Homo sapiens: one gene and its partner. The protein of the gene in region 2 interacts with the protein of the main gene of each other region in a pairwise test. Each region holds a gene or a part of one and is shown on either strand. Other genes may lie near its edges.

The links.
Region 1: the proteins of KCNN4 (region 2) and CACNA1D come close enough for resonance energy transfer, tested with the Homo sapiens proteins (one study listed by BioGRID).

The regions. Positions count from the first base shown.
Region 1 is NC_000003.12:53,804,902-53,814,004, reverse strand, and holds the end of CACNA1D (voltage-dependent L-type calcium channel subunit alpha-1D), read right to left. Parts: intron 9,023-9,103; coding exon 8,859-9,022; intron 5,357-8,858; coding exon 5,235-5,356; intron 4,028-5,234; coding exon 3,707-4,027; intron 2,893-3,706; coding exon 2,599-2,892; 3' UTR 272-2,598; downstream 1-271. UniProt on the Homo sapiens protein: Voltage-sensitive calcium channels (VSCC) mediate the entry of calcium ions into excitable cells and are also involved in a variety of calcium-dependent processes, including muscle contraction, hormone or neurotransmitter release, gene expression, cell motility, cell division and cell death.
Region 2 is NC_000019.10:43,775,871-43,784,980, forward strand, and holds the start of KCNN4 (intermediate conductance calcium-activated potassium channel protein 4), read right to left. Parts: upstream 5,104-9,110; 5' UTR 4,992-5,103; coding exon 4,833-4,991; intron 767-4,832; coding exon 671-766; intron 1-670. UniProt on the Homo sapiens protein: Intermediate conductance calcium-activated potassium channel that mediates the voltage-independent transmembrane transfer of potassium across the cell membrane through a constitutive interaction with calmodulin which binds the intracellular calcium allowing its opening.

The DNA of each region.
Region 1 (9,103 bases), on a different chromosome or scaffold from region 2:
CCAGCTGTCTGGGTGGATGTCGGAGTCCATAGGCTGAGCAGAGATGGTTCTTAGTGAGGTTCTCGCTGCCAGTTGACGGTGAAATCATAGCTGCCATTTACATTTTGTGAGATTATGAAAAACATAAGACTAAAGAAACTAAATGTGTTATTCCTGTGGACACAAAAATGTGTGTTTTTCAGATGGGGAGGGGACCAAAAAGGAAAAACATTTCATCTTAAAACTTTCCTAAGACAAGGGAAAACAAAAAACCATGCTCTACAACTTCAAATTTTTCTTACAAAGAAAAATTTAATATTCGATGAGAGGTTGAACCAGGCTTAAAGCAGACATACTAGGAAATGGTGCAGCCTGTAAGAATGCCAGTTTGTAAGTACTGACTTTGGAAAAGATCATCGCCTCTATCAGACACTTAGGGTCCTGGTCTGGCAATTTTGGCCTGATGTGATGCCACAAGACCCAACAGAGAGAGACACAGAGTCCAGGATAATGTTGACAGTGGTGTAGCCCTTTAGGAGAAATGGCGCTCCCTGCGGCTGGTATTAGGTTACCATTGGCACCGAAGGAACCAGGAGGATAAGAATATCCATAATTTCAGAGCTGCCCTGGCACAGTACCTGCCCTGTCGGAGGCTCTCACTGGCAAATGACAGCTCTGTGCAAGGAGCACTCCCAAGTATAAAAATTATTACACAGTTTTATTCTGAAGAACATTTTGCATTTTAATAAAAAAGGATTTATGTCAGGAAAGAGTCATTTACAAACCTTGAAGTGTTTTTGCCTGGATCAGAGTAAGAATGTCTTAAGAAGAGGTTTGTAAGGTCTTCATAACAAAGTGGTGTTTGTTATTTACAAAAAAAAAAAAAAAAAAAAAAATTAACAGGTTGTCTGTATACTATTAAAAATTTTGGACCAAAATTGCTACCTATCATCTATCTTTTTGATTGCAGGGAATCCCTGCCAAGGTAACCTGACAGTCGGCCTAATTCTGTTGACAGAAAATGAAGCCTTGACGGTTCTAATTATCCAAAAGTGGGTTTTCATCAGGACGTACAGTCAGAGTGTGAGTGCATTCTAATGAAAACTTCAGCCCTCATTCAATTGCATATAAAAGCCCTCAAAGAGAACATACAGTACAGCAGTTTTGTAAAAGGCAACAATACGATTTGTACAGACCCCGACACTCCAATCCTATAGATCACCACGTTGCTCCTCTGTCCCCAGCACCCCTTATTTCTTAAGCAGCACCACCAGTCCCCAGAGGACAAGAGCAGCTATATCTCATCCACCTATGCATTTCTGCACCAGCGATGCAAAAAACACCCTGGGTGGGCCACAGAGAAAACCGTAACTATGGATACCCAAGGGGCAGAGCAGCCAGCTGGACCTGCTCTGTAATTCACTTACTTACTTACCAGAGGGTGGTTCAAGTCAAACAAACAAAACCAAAGACAGTTGCAACCCATGGTGGATCCAAAGGTACAGTATCAAAATCATGGAACTCTTGCCCAAAGAAAAGACTGCAAATAGTCATCTGGTATATCTTGTGGAAAGATGATAGGTTTATAGTGACTCAAAATATTTTAGAAAAATTTCTGTAGTGTCAAGTTCTTTCAAACTTAAAATTTTAACCCCAGAGGATTTTCGCTGAATAAATGAGAATTGGCTCTATTTCTTCTACTTCTGGATAGCCCGAGTAAAAATACTAATAATTTCTAGATTTTAGTGGGGAACTACAATTATTAGGACCCATGGATATTGCTGCAGTTCAAATACAATACAGTAATTACAAAATATAGACCATCTCTTTACAAATACAAATTATAGTATATTACAAGTCATGTACAGTAAATCTATAATTTTAAACAAACTAGTGTATCTAAGTTTACCTGGTTGCGAGTGCATTATTATTCCAGTTTACAGTTGCCCTTAGCGTGACAGTCAGAAACCGACCATCGGAGTGATATTCTCTTATGTAAACTGGCGTCACATCACAGAAAACCTTATTTATGAGGTCCCATTGCCCTCGCAATAATCACTGGTAGCTGGGTTCTGACTTACTTACACACCGTATTTCAGAACAGCTAAACAGGAACCAGGACGCAGTGTATTTGGGGGAAAGGGTTTAAAAATGGATATGTTGGGCCCAGTGACTGATATGCTAGACCGATGGCTGAGGTAACGACACAGGTGTGATGATCGTCATCACCTTTAACTTTCCCCTGCACCCCGCCGCCATGCCTTCAGTTGGGTGGGCCTGGTGCCCTGGTACATGGGAGAAGCAGACTCCACAGCAGTGCCCATCTGGACAATGGGGCAGGGCAGGTCTGGCCTCCTCACCCATCCTCTGTGAGAGGGCGGGGCCTGCTGTTTCCTGCAGCTGGGGCCGAGCGCATGGTACTCTGCCAGGCTCAACCGCTTGGGACCTGTTCCTACCAGGTTTATGGCTTTCTTGAGGCATGACATCTCTTATACAAAAGTCTAATTAATTGAATATTACTCCCAACTAGTGCCTAAACTTTCCTAACTATGAGGCACTTTTCCCCTGGCTCTCCTGCGCCCCACCTGAGGCCAGAGCCAGTCTGCCCCTCGCTGGGGGCTACAAGGTGGTGATGCATATCATTTCATCCGCCAGGTCCTCCTCATCCCTCCCAGGGTCTGGCTCTTCGTCGCTGTAGCCAGGACCAAAGTCCTGTAGCTCATAGTCCTGCCGGTGTGAGAGGGGGCCCACATCCCCGTTGGCTCGGGGACGCACGTTCCCATTAAGCAGGGTGCTGGCTGCACTCTCCATCTCGTCGATGGTGAGGTCACAGGCATCAGCGATTTCGTGTTTTGTTGCTGACACAAATTTTGGGTCCCTTGCATAGCGTCCCAAGCCTTCGGATATCAGGACCTGTACAGAAAAGAGGGATGGATGGCATGGGGGTGTTATAAGGCTTTGCAGGGCAGGGGGACGACAGAAAAATCAACTCCAGTGCTAACTTAACTGCACCGTGTGCTTTGGGGATGCAGCTCAATCATGTTTTCTAGACCTCATACATAATAACTAGTGTAAATGGCTTTGAAAATGTCCTGGAGCTAAAAAACTACACATGGCCCAACAAGAGTGAAACCCACTGGGGAAAGACATTTAGTATAAACTAGAAACATATGCCGGAACAGCACCCATAATGCCAGCACAGCTCATTTATGAGAATTGACGGTGGTGACCAGTTTTTGTTTTTTTTTTTTTTTTTTTTTTTTTTTTGAGACAAGAGTCTCGCTCTGTGGCCCAGGCTGGAGTGCAGTGGTGTGATCTCGGCTCACTGCAGCCTCCACCTCCCGGGTTCAAGCAGTTCTCCTGCTGCAGCCTCCTGAGTAGCTGGGATTACAGGCATACACCACCACGCCCGGCTAATTTTTGTATTTTTAGTAGAGACGGGGTTTCACCATGTTGGCAAGGCTGGTCTTTGAGCCGCTGACCTCAGGTGATCCACCCGCCTCGGCCTCCCAAAGTGCTGAGATTACAGACGTAAGCCACTGCAGCCAGTGGTGGTGACCAGTTTTTACTCATGCTTCAGGTACATTCCTGCTGCTCAGAAGTGTCTGATTGAGGCAGCCTAGCTCACAGCCTGGCCGCCCTCCCACCACTGCCCTTCCTGCTGTTACAGTTGCACCTCTGCTGCTCCTGGTGCTTCCTGCCCACCACGGCCAAGAACCGTACTCACTGCCTCCACCAAGCTGTCCGCACTCCTCTGCTTGTCGCTGTTTTTGTTCCGGAAGCTGCTGGGGACAGTCAGGCTGGCTGGTGTGAAAGTCCGGTAGGAGATGTCGGGCTCGTCTGTGTACCAGGAGCTGCGGTGCAGGGACGGCAGGCTGCCGTTCACCTGGTCCAGGGCCTCTGACTGCTCCACTTGGATCAGGGGGGTGTAGCACGGTGTCCAGTCCCGGTAGGGAGGGGTTGCTGGAGGGGTGGCCCACGACCGGGTCGAGTGACTCGGTGAGTACTTCTGGGCTTTACTTGAATCTAGGCCGGCAACTGCCATGATCTGAGGAAAGAGGGGACTGTTGGGAGACCAGAGGTTCTCAGAGGTCCGGGCCTCAAACCTTCTGCGCACAGACCAAGCACCGGCGCTGCGCTCGCCAGGGGCAGTCCAGGCAAGGACTTGGAAAGGACATGGGCACACTGAAGTACGCTGAATGAATGGGCGGTGATGACTTTGTTTTCTAGCAGACTGTGCTTTCTTTTACCCCGAATCCATAATGCATTTCCTTTGGCTTTTCCCAAGGAGGTATCAGTTGCTAATTCATGAAATTGCTTCAGAATGAAGAATCAGGGAAGCCCAACAAGCTGTGGGTGTGAACACACCACCCAGTTCATGCTGGGTTTAAATACCGAAGTACATTCAGGGGAAACTACCACTTCCCAGCACTTATAGGAAAACAGCTGGTTCTCTTTGCTCTGGAGTAATGCATCCTAGAGCCGGCATTTGGCATGTGCTAAAGCACTGGGTACAAGCCCCGGTCTTACAATCCCACCACGGCAGATGCACCTTGGGGTTCACACTCTGCAGAGAGGGACGGGGAACGCTGTCTGTAAACAGCACAGGTCCATGCCCACCACCCTGTCGTGCACGAATGAATGGCATCTCTGATGTGATATTTTCAGAAAGAAAAAGCGCCATATTGTTATCCTTGAGGGAAAGCCCTAGTGAGTGGGCTCCGGCCCCACCCTCTTGCCTGTGCAGCCGCCCTCAACGTGGGCAAACTGTTCTCCCCAGACTGCTCCCTTTGTAGGCAGGGGAGGTTAACCCTGCATAGTACCCACAGGGCCCTGCCCATGGAGGGACCCATAAACTTAATGAAGGAACCACTTCTTAGAGAAAATGAAGGGCTGCACCGCTTGTTCAGAATCAGCCAAGTGGCCCCCACTCCCTGAGCTCAGATCACATCAGGCTCTGTATTCAATGCCAGGAAGAGGTGGTGGGGATCGCAGGGAGGCACCTGGGCAGTGAGGCCAGCTTTGGCAGCTGGCTCCCTGGATTCAAATGCCAGCAGTCACTTGTGTGAGCTTGGGCAGCATGGGACTCATGGCCATAGCTATTTGACAGGATTGTTACAAAGATTAACTAGACTGTAGGTGAAGATTCTCTCCTTCCCTCCTGGTGCTTAAGGCCAAGGAGAAGGGAGTGACCTGATGGGGGTCCTATGTGGGGTGCCCCTAGGTGTGGGGGCAAGGCCAGGTGGGCCGCTCACCTGTTGCTGCATTAGATGCAGAGGCAGGGCCGTGCGATGGGGGAAGATGGGAGACGACGGGACCTCTTCCTGGCTGCTCTGCCGGCGCAGGCACTCAAAGTTGAAGGAGGATCTCCGGTGGGCTGGGAAAGCAAAGGGCATCACACAGCTGTGAAGCAAGTTCTCTGCCGGGACACCGTCTTTCAGAGTCAGGGTGGCCCCGGATGCTCAGCAACGAGCCCAGGAAGAAGCATGCGGTTTGTCCAAGAGAAAGATTAGGTAGTGAGGTCTCCAAACTTTAGTAGGAGAGGATGAAGGCAGAAGCCCCAGTGAGGGATGTTTTTTAAAGTACAAACTTACTACTTTTTTTTTTTTTTTGAGATGGAGTCTGGCTCTGTCGCCCAGGCTGGAGTGCAGTGGCGCAATCTCAGCTCACTGCAAGCTCCACCTCCCGGGTTCACGCCATTCTCCTGCCTCAGCCTCCCGAGTAGCTGGGACTACAGGCGCCCGCCACCACGCCCGGCTACTATTTTGTATTTTCAGTAGAGACAGGGTTTCACCGTGTTAGCCAGGATGGTCTCGATCTCCTGACCTCGTGATCCACCCGCCTCAGCCTCCCAAAGAGAACTTACTACTTTTAAACGTTCGCCTGTTCTCAGGAGGAGGAGTGAAGGCAGCCCATAGGGCAACTGATCCGAGTCAGAAGCCCTGGCGCTGCATACTGTGGGGAGCGCACAGCACTTCAGTGCAAGAACACAAGTCCTGCCAGAACCCCACGACACTTCCCACTGTCACCTTCCAGATACCCTAAGTGTCCCCAGCAGCTGACATATCTTGCTGGGGCTCCTGTGTTTACACCTGTTTTAAAGGGAGGGACTTTACCTGCACTGATCAGCTTGACCAGGTAATAAGCAAATTATTTTTGTTGGGAAAGATTCAGCTTCTCTAGCACTGAATACAAACAAAGGACACCTCTAATTTTAAGAAAATGCTTGTCCTGCTAACAGCTCTTCCAACAGAGGCTCACACAGAGGTTAACAAGACAATCCACAGCTCCCAGCTTCACAGGGCACCAGGCCCGGGAGATCAGTCTGAATTCTGGGGCCCTAAGACACAGCCAGCAGCCTCCTCCCAGAAACCTCCTACCCCTTGCAGGGGCCTCTGTCGAGAGCACACCTATCGTTTACAAGGCATTTCTATGGCTCCTATCTTGACCGCTGCTTTTCTCGGATCACAGGGCCTCCTTTCTCAGCCCTGGCAAAACTCCACATGCCCCTCATTCCGCTATTGGAAAGCCCAGGGCCTAGCCAGGGGAGGACTCCCAGGCACACTGGGGCTGCACACAAGAGACCGGGCTGAGTCCTTGGCTAGGCACTGCCCAGCAGAGAGGAACGAGACAGCCAGTCCTGGTCTCTCGTGCCCAGTGCGCACTGTGGGGCCTCCTGGTTCAGTTGCCTACATGGGACACACACGGCTGCCTCATCAGAAAGCCTTCCCTCCACGCACCACCCAGGGGCCAACTGTGCTGTGGAGCATAGGTTTCCAGATCGAATGGCCGGGCTGGGGGCTGGGAAAGGAGAGCAGCGGTCCCTCTCCTGTATGTGGTGCTTTTCCATTTCTAAAATGCTCCAGGGATCCCCACCATCTCATGTGCTCTGCACAACACTCTCTGGAGGAGGAGGGAATCCCCCTGCAGCTGAGAACACAGGTGGAGGAGGGAAATGTTCTTCCTGTCCAAGGTCTGAGCTGCGGGGCAGCAAAGCAAAACCACCTTATGAATCAAGAGCACAGCCACTCCTGCCCACTCAGCTCCTCTCTGGCACTGTGGCTGGTGGGATTCATGTGCTTGCTTGCTTGGCCAAGTAGGCAGTAGACAAAGGCCGAGGCCCGAGGAAGGCAGTGGAACTCACAAGGGCGAGGGCCATCACCCGGCCTCACCTGCATCTGCTTCATCTAGTATTTATGGGAAAGGAGTGACTTCATTTAGCTGCATGTGTTCAGGGCTGAGGAATTAAATATTAACCATGGAAATGGGTCTGGTCACACTCCCCAGTGGGGCTGTGACAGTTGGAGTGAGGCAGAGGGCCCTGGGCACCTCCCAGTGGTGCTCTTTATAGTATATGCAGTTGGCAGACTCAGAAGCCGATGTGTCACGGCTATTTTTGGTTACTGATTAGAGTCCTGTTCAAAAATATGCTTCATTCCTCAGAAATTCCAGAAATGGATAGTCCTTAACCATCAGCAAAATGCCCACATGTCCAAAATGAAACTGTTCAGCCAAGGGCTGGAAGGGGCCAGGGCTGCACCTCTTCCCCCAGCTGGAGTTCCTTGCTCAGGATGACCCAGATCCGCCAGCTCCTGCCACCCACCGCTGCAGAGGGAAAGCAGGTGGAAGCAGCCAGCCCCAGCCCCAGCCCCTCTAGGTGGGATGGGTTTCCTGGCCCCAGAGTGAAGGGGACCAACAAGTCCAGAACCTGCCCCGTGAGCAGAGGGCACTGACAGACTTGACAGGAAGATGAGGGAGAAGCAGAGAAAGTGAGGGAGGAGGAGGGAAGGCAAGGGAGAGGAAGGGGGAGGAGGGAAGATGAGGGAGGAGGGAGGAGGGAGGAGGAGGGAGGAGAGGGGGAGGGAAAAGAAGGAGGAGGAGGGTAGATGAGGGAGGAGGAAGATAAAGGAAGATGCTAGAAGACGAAGGAGGAGGAAGATGAGGGAAGATGAGAGAAAATGAGGGAGGAGGAGGAGGGAACATGAGGGAGGAGGAGGAGGGAACATGAGGGAGGAGGAGGGAAGATGAGGGAGGAACGGAGGAGGAGGGAAGATGAGGGAGGGAGGAGGAGGGAAGATGAGGGAGGAGGAGGAGGGAAGATGAGGGAGCAGGAGAAGATGAGGGAGGAGGAGAAGATGCGGGAGGAGGAGGAGGAGGGAAGATGAGGGAGGAGGAGGAAAGATGGAGGAGGAGGGAAGATGGAGGAGGAGGAGGGAAGATAGAGGAGGAGGAGGGAAGATGAGGGAGGAAGAGGGAAGATGAGGGAGGAGGAGGGAAGATGAGGGAGGAGGAGGGAAGATGGAGGAGGAGGAGGGAAGATGAGGGAGGGAGGAGGAGCAGAGATGAGGGAGGAGGATAAGGCTTGGAGGGGCCTGAGGACAGATGGACACCAGAATGCCCAGGTGGCCCTCAGAGGCATGGGGTTTTGCAAGACAGGCCTGCGGCACAGCCAGCTCTGCACTTGAGCCCACTCTTCCCCTTTGGGGGCTCAGTCACCCCATCACAGAGTGCAGCAGGGCTGACAACAGCAAAAGCATGTGTGTGGTTTGCCTCCCTCTCAGGATGGTCCCAGGTTCAAAGACAATGCTATGTATGCAAAACACCCCTTACCAGATGTGTGCGTGCAATCTTAGGGCCCCACAGCCTCTCTCTTCTCAAAGAGAGTCAAGCATAGCACTGAAGAGGCTAGAGCTCTATCACGTGAGATATGGATGAGAAAGGAAGGAAAGCAGACACACTCTCTGGCTGGGGGCTGGTCTTGAGGACTAAGGATCCTGACCTGGCAGCACACATCCATCACCGGCCCCCAGAGCGGGGGTTGGGGGAGAGGTACACTGTTCCCCGGGAGGTTCCACCCAAAACAAAAAATCTGGCCTCACATGCTGGGGTGGGAGGTAGTAGGCGTCTCCTTGGAGATCTCCGTGAATCATAGCAAACGGGCGAGTCATCGTCCTCCAAGAATCCTTGGGGATGATGGTAGCCTCGGGGCCTCTCAGAGTCGATGTTTCTGCCTGGGTATCTGCTGTAGTAGCCATAGTTTTGCCTGGAGGTCAGAGAGGAGGGCAGTAAGGTTCTAGGTAACAAGCTCTGTCACTCAACCCTGCCAGACTGACATCCATACTCC
Region 2 (9,110 bases):
AATCCTAGCACTTTGGGAGGACAAGGTGGGCAGACTGCTTGAGCTCAGTAGTTGGAGACCAGCCTGGACAACATAGTGAAACCCCGTTTCTACTAAAATACAAAAAAATTAGCTGGGCGTGGTGGCATCTGCCTGTAGTCACAGCTACTTGGGAGGCTGAGGCATGAGAATTGTTTGAACCCAGGAGGTGGAGGTTGCAGTGAGCAGAGATCGTGCCACTCCACTCTAGCCTGGGCAACAGAGCAAGACCTTGTCTCAAAAAAAAAAAAAAAAAAAAAAAAAAAAAGGAGTGGGCAGCCCTAGGACCTTAGGTTGCTTGAGGACTGGATTGGGGATGCCATGTCGGAGCACAGAGATCTGGGAAGCTGAGTGCCTGGGAGCAGAGTGGACAGAGGCCTGGGGGCGGAAGCAGGGCTGCAAGGGCACTCTCAGCATCCGTGAGTGTGCAAGGGGGGGCTGGGGACTACAGGGGAAGGCGGAGCTGGTGGGGGAGGCTCTGCCTGTCTGCTCATGGTTCATCCCATCTGGGTAGGTGAGGGTGTGGACGCAGCACCTAGGGCAGAAGAACTTCATTACTCAGATCAGGAGGAGGAGGAGGGTGGAAAGTGTGAGCTGACAGGGCGCTGAGGGGGTTGGAGGGAGCAAGGCTTAGGGGCGGGGCCTGCCCTACCTGGACCTCTTTGGCATGAAAGGCCACGATGAGGCAGAGGAGTAAGAAGGTGGAAATGCTGATCGTGCATTTAACCAGGAACAGGTAGAGCGCCCACTGTCAGGGGGGACGGAAAAAGCGGTGTGAGATCCCAGGTCTCCCTCCGCCTGGCCCTCCACCTTTCCTTCAAAACCACCATTTTTTTTTTTTGATTCCCAATTTTCCTAGCCTCCTTCCCCTGCAAATCAGTCCCTCTTGATGTGTCGGTTCTGGAGAAGTCTCAAAACCATCATCTGGGCCCAGTGCGGTGGCTCACACCTGTAATCCCAACACTCTGGGAGGCTGAGGCAGGTGGATCACCGAAGGTCGGGAGTTTGAGACCCCCTGGCCAACATGGTGAAACCCAGTCTCTACTAAAAAAACAAAAAATTAGCTGGGTGTGTAATCCCAGCTACTTGGGAGGCTGAGGAACCAGAATCTTGAACCCAGGAGGTGGAAGTTGCAGTGAGCTGAGAGATCGCGCCACTGCACTCCAGCCTGGGCAACAGAGCGAGTCTCCGTCTCGAAACAAGCAAGCAAGCAAACAAACAAACAAAAAAACACCATCATCTGGTCCCCAGGAATGCTCTCTTTCTCCCCAACAGGACAACCCTGTCCAGATGCTGGTGTCTACCCTCTTCCTCAGCTCTTCTCCCAAGACCCATACCCATGAAGGGGGACCTTGAAACTCACATTCCTTCTTATTCCTGTCCCATTTCACATCAAAAATAGTTCTTCAGGTGTGTGTGTGTGTGTGTGTGTGTGTGGGTGTGTGTGTGTGGTGTCTAGAAAAAGACATCTAGCCTCTAGAGAGTGCCCCCTCCCCTTCCCTTCCTACCCACCTGGTGTTGTCCTAGAAACCAACTTCAATCAACCCCAACCCCAGATCTGGAAGAATGTAGAAACTACCATTCAATCCTCAAAGACTGAGTCACACCCTTCTCTGCTCTCATCCGGAGGGCTGAGTCCCTGAGACCCAGCCTCAGCTCTGAGACAGCCCCCTCGGTTCTGCCCCCCTGCAGCTCCCCACTGCCACCCCTCTCTTCTGGCTCTAAGCCCAGGGCAGATCTGGCCGGAAGCACAGGGCCTCCAGAAACCACGGAGAAATTGTTCCTTTTTTTTTTTTTCCTCTCTTTGTGTGGCACAACCTTGGAGGAATCTAGAATTCTGGAGAGAGGGATTTAGAGGGGACTGGGACTGTTGGATTTCCTAAGAGGGGTTGGTCCCTGCCTGGCGGGTATTTGCAGGGGGAGGGGACCACCTGGGCGTCCTTACAAAGCATTGCACCTGTTTCTCCTAAGAGGGCTGCCAGCTCCCCTGGCTGGGCCAGCATCCCGCCTCTGAGCAGGGGAAGAGGGCCAGTTTCCTGCCCCAGGGGCCTGCTCCCCAACCCCCTATCAGAACAATAGTGCTGTTGTCACCAGCCCTCCCCCACCTTCTATGGCTCCCTGGTTCCCTGCCTCTTTCTTCAGTCTGTCTTAACTGCCCACACCACTAGACAACAAGCTCCCTCCTCACACTGCAATTTGCTTCTCTGGTGGTCCTCTCTACTTTTCCATTTCCTCTTCCCCCAAATCCCGGACCTGTCTGCACTTGGGCCTGTACTCTGTTCTCTGAATTTCCCTGTCTCTAGGGATGGTTGTTGCTGTCTTTCTATGTGTTTTGAGGGTCTTTGTTTCTATTGTCTCTTTTTTTTTTTGAGACGGAGTCTTGCTCTGTCACCCAGGCTGGAGTGCAGTGGCACGATCTTGGCTCATTGCAAGCTCCGCCTCCTGGGTTCACACCATTCTCCTGCCTCAGCCTCCTGAGTAGCTGGGACTACAGGCACACGCCGCCATGCCTGGCTAATTTTTTGTGTTTTTAGTAGAGATGGGGTTTCACTGTGTTAGCCAGGATGGTCTCGATGTCCTGACCTTGTGATCCGCCCACCTCGGCCTCCCAAAGTGCTGGGATTACAGGCGTGAGCCACCGCGCCCGGCCCTCTATTGTCTTTTCTAACGCTGTGTGTGTATCTCTCACTGGTGGATTTCTCAGTAGCTTGATAGCCCTATTTGTCTTTCTCTTTAGCTGTACTTCTCTATCTTTCTGCATTTTTGTCTCCATCTCTCTTTTTCTCTCCATGTATCTCTGTGTCTCTGTCTCTCTCTGTACCTCTCCCCATCCCTCCTCCTCCACCCCACCTGGTGCTTTTGGATATCTCTATCCAGTTCCCTTGGACTCCCTAGGGTTTTGCACCTGCCTCTCTGCCAGCCCCTCCCCCTGGGGAGCAGGTGTCTGGGTCCTTTGCAGAAATGAGCTCATTAGATTGAGATGGAGGTGGTGAGGGGCGGTGGATGTTATTAAGAGAGTCCTCAAAAGGGGACTGAGGAGCTGTGGCTCAGGCCTGTAATCCCAGCACTTTGAGGCAGGAGGATTGCCTGAGTCCAGGAGTTCAAGACCAGCCTAGGCAACAAAGCAAGGTCCCATCTCTACATAAAATAAAAAGGGTGGAGGGTGACCCTTAGGGTCATGTATTTTAACCCTCACCCCAATTTACAGATGGGGAAACTGAGGTTCAGAGGGTTGTAACAGCTTCCCCAAGGTCCCACTGATAGAGGCAGTGGCCTGGCCATGGTGGAGGGAAGGAAGAAATGAGGGGTGAGAAAGCAGAGGGGTGAAGTGGGGTAGGATGGACCCCGTCTCTTCCCATCTGCCAGGGTCACTGTGTTCCCACCTCGGCTTCTGGGTGCGGTGCTTCGGCGTGGGAGCGGCGGGCAGGCCCCGGCCATGCTTCCTGTTGGCATGGACTTCGGCGGCCCCACCCCCTCAGTGCCCGCCGCCTGCCAGAGGAAGCTGCATGCCTGACCCTCCATGTGGCTCCTGGTCACTTCAGAGCTGCCCACCACCCCCTCCAGATCCAAGTCGGAACATCAGACCCTCAGGAATCTACCCAATCTTCATATCAGTGTCCGCATCTGGCCCTACCAGCCCAGTTCCACAACCCTTCTGCCAGAGAGGTCTCCAGCCCCTCCTTTCCTGTTGAGCAAGTCTGTTCTCCCCTCAAGCCACTTATTCCAACCCTTGTCCTTGATCTGCCCCATCACTGGCCTGACCAGGGCTGGAATGTGACGGGAGCCTGCTGAGACCTGCCCTGACCCCACTTTCCCCTTTCTTCCCTACTCACCACTCATCTTCGGAGTCAGCCCCTCTTCCCCAAAAGCAATCAAAACCCCCTTCTCCTTAAGACTCAGGAATCCAGGACCCAGCCCCCTCCTCTCCTGGTACCTAGGAGTCCAGGCCACTGTAAGCCTACCTCTCCACTATTTCCCTGACTAATCAGCATGCAGATTTGGGGAGAAATTGAGCTTGTTAACAGTGGAGACTGGGTTGGGGTTGGTGGGGGGAGGCAGGTCGGGGGAGAGGTTTGTTTCCCATTTCCCATCCCCACCCCCAAGGCAGTTTTTTCTGTCCTTTGCATCTAAGGCACTGGGTAAACATTAGAGGTTAGACAAGGACCAAAGAGCTGCCGCCTACTGGAAGAACTTTGTCTTTCCTCCACTCTCCCTTCACCAAACCTGGGGCTACCTCTCCCCTTATTGGCTCTTGGGGGGCTTGAGTGTCTGATCAGCCACCCTCTGGCCTCCAGGGGTCCTGGACCTCTGGCCGTCTAATGGCAACATCTTCAAAGACTGAAACACTGAAACAAATATTCCCTTCCTTTTGCAGAGAAGGACCCCAGCAACTGTCTCCTGGGAGCACCCAGGAGTCCCAGCCAAAGCCCCTCCTCCCTCAGACCCAAGAGTCTAGGCCCCCAACCTCTCCTCCCTCAGATCCAGGAGTCCTGACCCCCAGCCCCTCCTCCCTCAGACCCAGGAGTCCAGACCCCAGCCCCTCCTCCCTCAGACCCAGGAGTCCTGACCCCCAGCCCCTCCTCCCTCAGACCCAGGAGTCCAGGCCCTCAGTCCCTCCTCCCTCAGACCCAGGAGTCCAAGTCCCCAGTCCCTCCTCCCTCAGACCCAGGAGTCCTGACCCTCAGCCCCTCCTCCCTCAGACCCAGGAGTCCTGACCCCCAGCCCCCCCTCCCTCAGACCCAAGAGTCCTGACCCCCAGCCCCTCCTCCCTCAGACCTAGGAGTCCCAGCTCCCAGCCACCATGCCCCACTCACCGAGCACCCCCCGAACCACAGCATCTCTGCATGCAGCACCATGAGTCCAATGCCAGTTCCTGCCAGCACCAGTGCCCAGCCGGCCAGAGACTTCTCCTGCTCCAGCAAGCGCTTTCGGCGTCTCAAGGCCCCCAGGCCAAGCACCAGATCCCCGCCCATGGCCCCCGGGGTCTTGGGGCTCAGCCAGCTTCCTGCCCAGGGTCCCCCACCTCGCAGCACGCACAGGGCAGCCACTGTGGCTTGCAGGTCGTCAGCCTGCTCTGCTGGCTCTGGGACTTTTGCTCTGAGGCACAGCAGAGCCCTGTGCCCTCTGGGGAGTGGTGACGGCCAGGCAGGGCGGGGAGGGGCAGGGGAGGCCCCAGGGTAGGGGGAGGCTCCCCAGCTCCCCCTTTTGAGAATAAGGAGGGGCTAGGGTGTGTCTTGGGGCAGAGCAAGAAAGAGACGTCCATCCACGTGGATAAAGACACACACAGACACACGATGGGCTTTGTCACACACAATGGTCTGTACTTTGTGACACACACCTCTACTCACCACACCCAGACACCGAAGGACACTCCACAGCCCAAGACGGAGACTAACACACCAGGGCACACAACACAACCTACACAGAGTGACTCACAACTCCCAGCAAGCTCTGAAACCCACAGCCACACCCAGACACCACACACATGGTGTGACACACACCAGCACTTAGCAAGCAGGCAGTATCCCGTGGCACACACAGCCACCCAAACACCGTCCACACACAGGCACAAATATTACACTCAAAGTTGTCACAACTTTCTCTGACACAAAGAGCCACACCCAAACACCACAAATAGGACGATGCACAACTGTGGCCACACAAACACAACATACACCAGGTGTTACACAAACACACAATATATATTAAAGTAGTGACGCCCTGATGCCACACACCACACACCGACACAAACACTGTGCAGTCCCAGTTTCCTAAACACTACACACCCTTGGAACGAAACCCAATACGTGTAGACACACAACATTTAGGGACATACCTATAGTAGCCCCCAATCACCCAGAGCTAGAGAATTGCACATACATTGTGGCGCCTGTTGACTCGAACACAAGTGCTCGCAGTGATGATTCAAAACACGCACTGATTCAGCATGCTCTGATGTGTGGTGCGATTCAAATGTATGGTCAGAGGACAAGCTGAGTGGATGCATGCAGAGACCTACAAGGTACAGCGACACACGGAGAAACCCAAGAAGCACATGCCTGAAGCAAGATGATTCTGGTATATTCTGGCCACACAGGACAACATCCAGGATGATGCCCTGGGGGAAGGGGATGGGGTTGGACCTTCATAGACCCCAGTGCCCAAATGCAACATACGGCTGGGTGCAGTGGCTCATGCCTGTAATCCCAGCAGTTTGGGAGGTTGAGGTGGGAGGATTGCTGGAGCCCAGGGGTTTGAGACCAGCCTGGGCAACATAGCAAGATCCTATCTCTAAAACAAGCAAAAACAAAAAAACAAACGCAACATACACCATCACCTCTGAGCCATGAGCCACACCCAAACATGACATACAATACCTCCACACAACCCAACACGTTATATTCCAACATGCGTGGCCACACAACAACATACGCGGAGTAATACACCAGCACACAGTAACGCAAAACACATAAACACAATGTTTTCCAACACACCCAACCTTCCACAAACGACCACATGTCCCATAAAACACCAGATGTCACCACTCACTGATACTACTGACACTGAGGTCTACCGCCACCCACACAACACCAGCATCGGGGGAGGGGGGTGTATCCTCTGACACAACATAACACACAGCTACACAAACACAAGACACTTGGGGTGGTTGGCACTCAGGGTGGGTGCTGGGGGCTGAGAAGGAAGAGGCCCCCAACAGGGACATGGACCCTGACGTGAGATACAGCAAATGCCAGTGTGGAATGTGCACGGTGACTCTCAGAGCAACACACAACATAGGACATCTCCATGTGTCGCAGCACGAGCCACTCATGGATCTGTACACCATACGCTCCGACACAGATCAAACCCTCCTGTGGAGACACACAGGCATGCACTGACCTGGTGACGCACATCACCTCCCAGCATCATGCACTGAACTGGTGACACTGCCCTTGGCCTCATGCACACCCCTCTGCAAGGAACCTGCGGACACAACCCTCCCCCTCCTTGTGTCCTAGGTCGTGTGGGACCCTGGACCCACCAGCCCCAGGGAAGCGAGACACGCACAGACATGTCTGACTGCACACCAAGGCAGCCCACACAAACACACCCAGAGACACCAAACCATACACATGGACACGCCCAGTGGCAAAAACACAACCCTTGCGGGGGCTCCGCCCCTCGGCACACACAATTACCCACTCGGCGAGACTTGGCGGGAGAGGGCTGGAGACACACCCGGGCGCGCCCAGACACCACACATGCGTCCACTTGGGGAAAGTGCAGCCGCCGGGCACTCCTGAGCCTGCAGCCTGGGCACCCCTGCCCACTGGCCGCCCGGCTCGCTGCGTCTCTCTCCTCCCTCTCCGGCTCTTTCTCTGGTTCTTTGGGACTTGCTTCCTGTCTCAGTCTCTCCTGATCTGGAAACCTCCGCGTTTGTCTTTTTTTTTTTTTTTTTTTTTTTTGAGATAGAGTCTTGCTCTGTCTCCCATGGCTGGAGTGCAGTGGCACGATCTCGGCTCACTGCAACCTCCACCTCCCAGGTTCAAGCAATTCTCCTACCTCAACCTCCCGAGTAGCTGATATTACAGGTGTGCACCACCACACCCAGCTAATTTTCGTATTTTTAGTAGAGACGAGGTTTCACCATGTTGGCCAGGCTGGTCGTGAACTTCTGACCTCAGGTGATCCACCCGCCTCGGCCTCCCAAAGTTCTGGGATTACAGGCGTAAGCCACCGTGCCTGGCCAGGTTTGTCTTTATCTCTGTCTCTGTTCTTCTCTCCTGGTACCTTTGTCTCTCTCTGTCTCTCTTCACTCTGTCTCTCTGTCTCTGCCTCTCTTAGCCTCTCTGTGTCTCTCTCATCGCTCTGTCCCTTTCTCCATCTTCGTGTCCCTCTCTGCTCCTCTGTTTCCTTCTTTCCCCGTCACTGTCTCTCTGTCATGTCTCTCTCTGTGTTCATCATTGCCTGTGTCTCTGTCATCGTGTCTCACTCTGTCTCCATCTCTCCGTCTCTAGGGCCCTCTGTTTTTGTCTGTCTCTTGCTGAATCGGTGTTTCTCTCCGTCTCTGTTTCACTCTCTCCCTGCCTCCTGGTCTCCTCTTGGGTCTCTCTCTCTCTCTCCGGGCCTCTCTATGCTTGTCTCTGCCTCAGTTTCTCTCTGCTGTTCACTGGCACATCTACGGACAGCCTGGTTCCTTCCGGTTCTACCCCAGTCCCACTCAGGGGTTGAGGGCCAGTGATCCAGAGACTGTGGCCACCCAAGGGTCAGAAGCCACTAAATAGCGCTCCAGCTGCGGCCATGCCATGGCATCTGTGCCCCAGTTCAGGCACTTGTGAAAAACGGAGACAGAGACTGACACAGAGGGAGAGAGAGATAATCAGAGAGACCTCGAGGCATTCAGCCAGGGATGGTGGGGGCATGTATTAAAAAAAATCAAAGAGACCCACAGGTGCAGAGAAACCGGAAAACACAATCAAGACACGGAAGTTAGAGCACAGAGAAATTTTGTCTCCAAATAGGCCATGACTGAAAGAGAAAAACAGCAAAGGATGGGCATGGACATGCCTGGGTGGCAGTGATGGGGTTACAGTGGGAAGGGCACCTGCCTTCAAACTGCAGTCCTGGGATGCAGGGGTCAGTCCTAGGAAACTGCTTCACTCCTCAGCCAGCTGCCTCCAGCCCAGGGAGGGGCCAAGGGGGGAGGGCGAGGTGACTCAGGGCCTCAGGGCTTCTTGTGACTCACCCTTGGTCTCAATCCTAGAATGGGGAGTGGAGGGAGAGAGGGGTTTGTGTAAAAGAGAGGGAGAGGGAATAGTAGAGGACCTCAAAATGCCTAAGAGGAAGGGTCCAGGAGGAAGAAGCTGGGGGTCTGGACTCCTGGTTCTGAGGGAGGAGGGGGTCTGAGGGAGGAGGGGCTGGGGTCTGGACTCCTGGGTCTGAGGAAGGAGGGGATGGGGTCTGGACTGCTGGTCTGAGAGAGGAGGGGCAGGGGGTCTGGACTCCTGGTTCTGAGGGAGGAGGGGGGCTGGGGTCTAGACTGCTGGTCTGAGAGAGGAGGGGCTGGATCTGGACTCCTAGGTCTGAGGGAG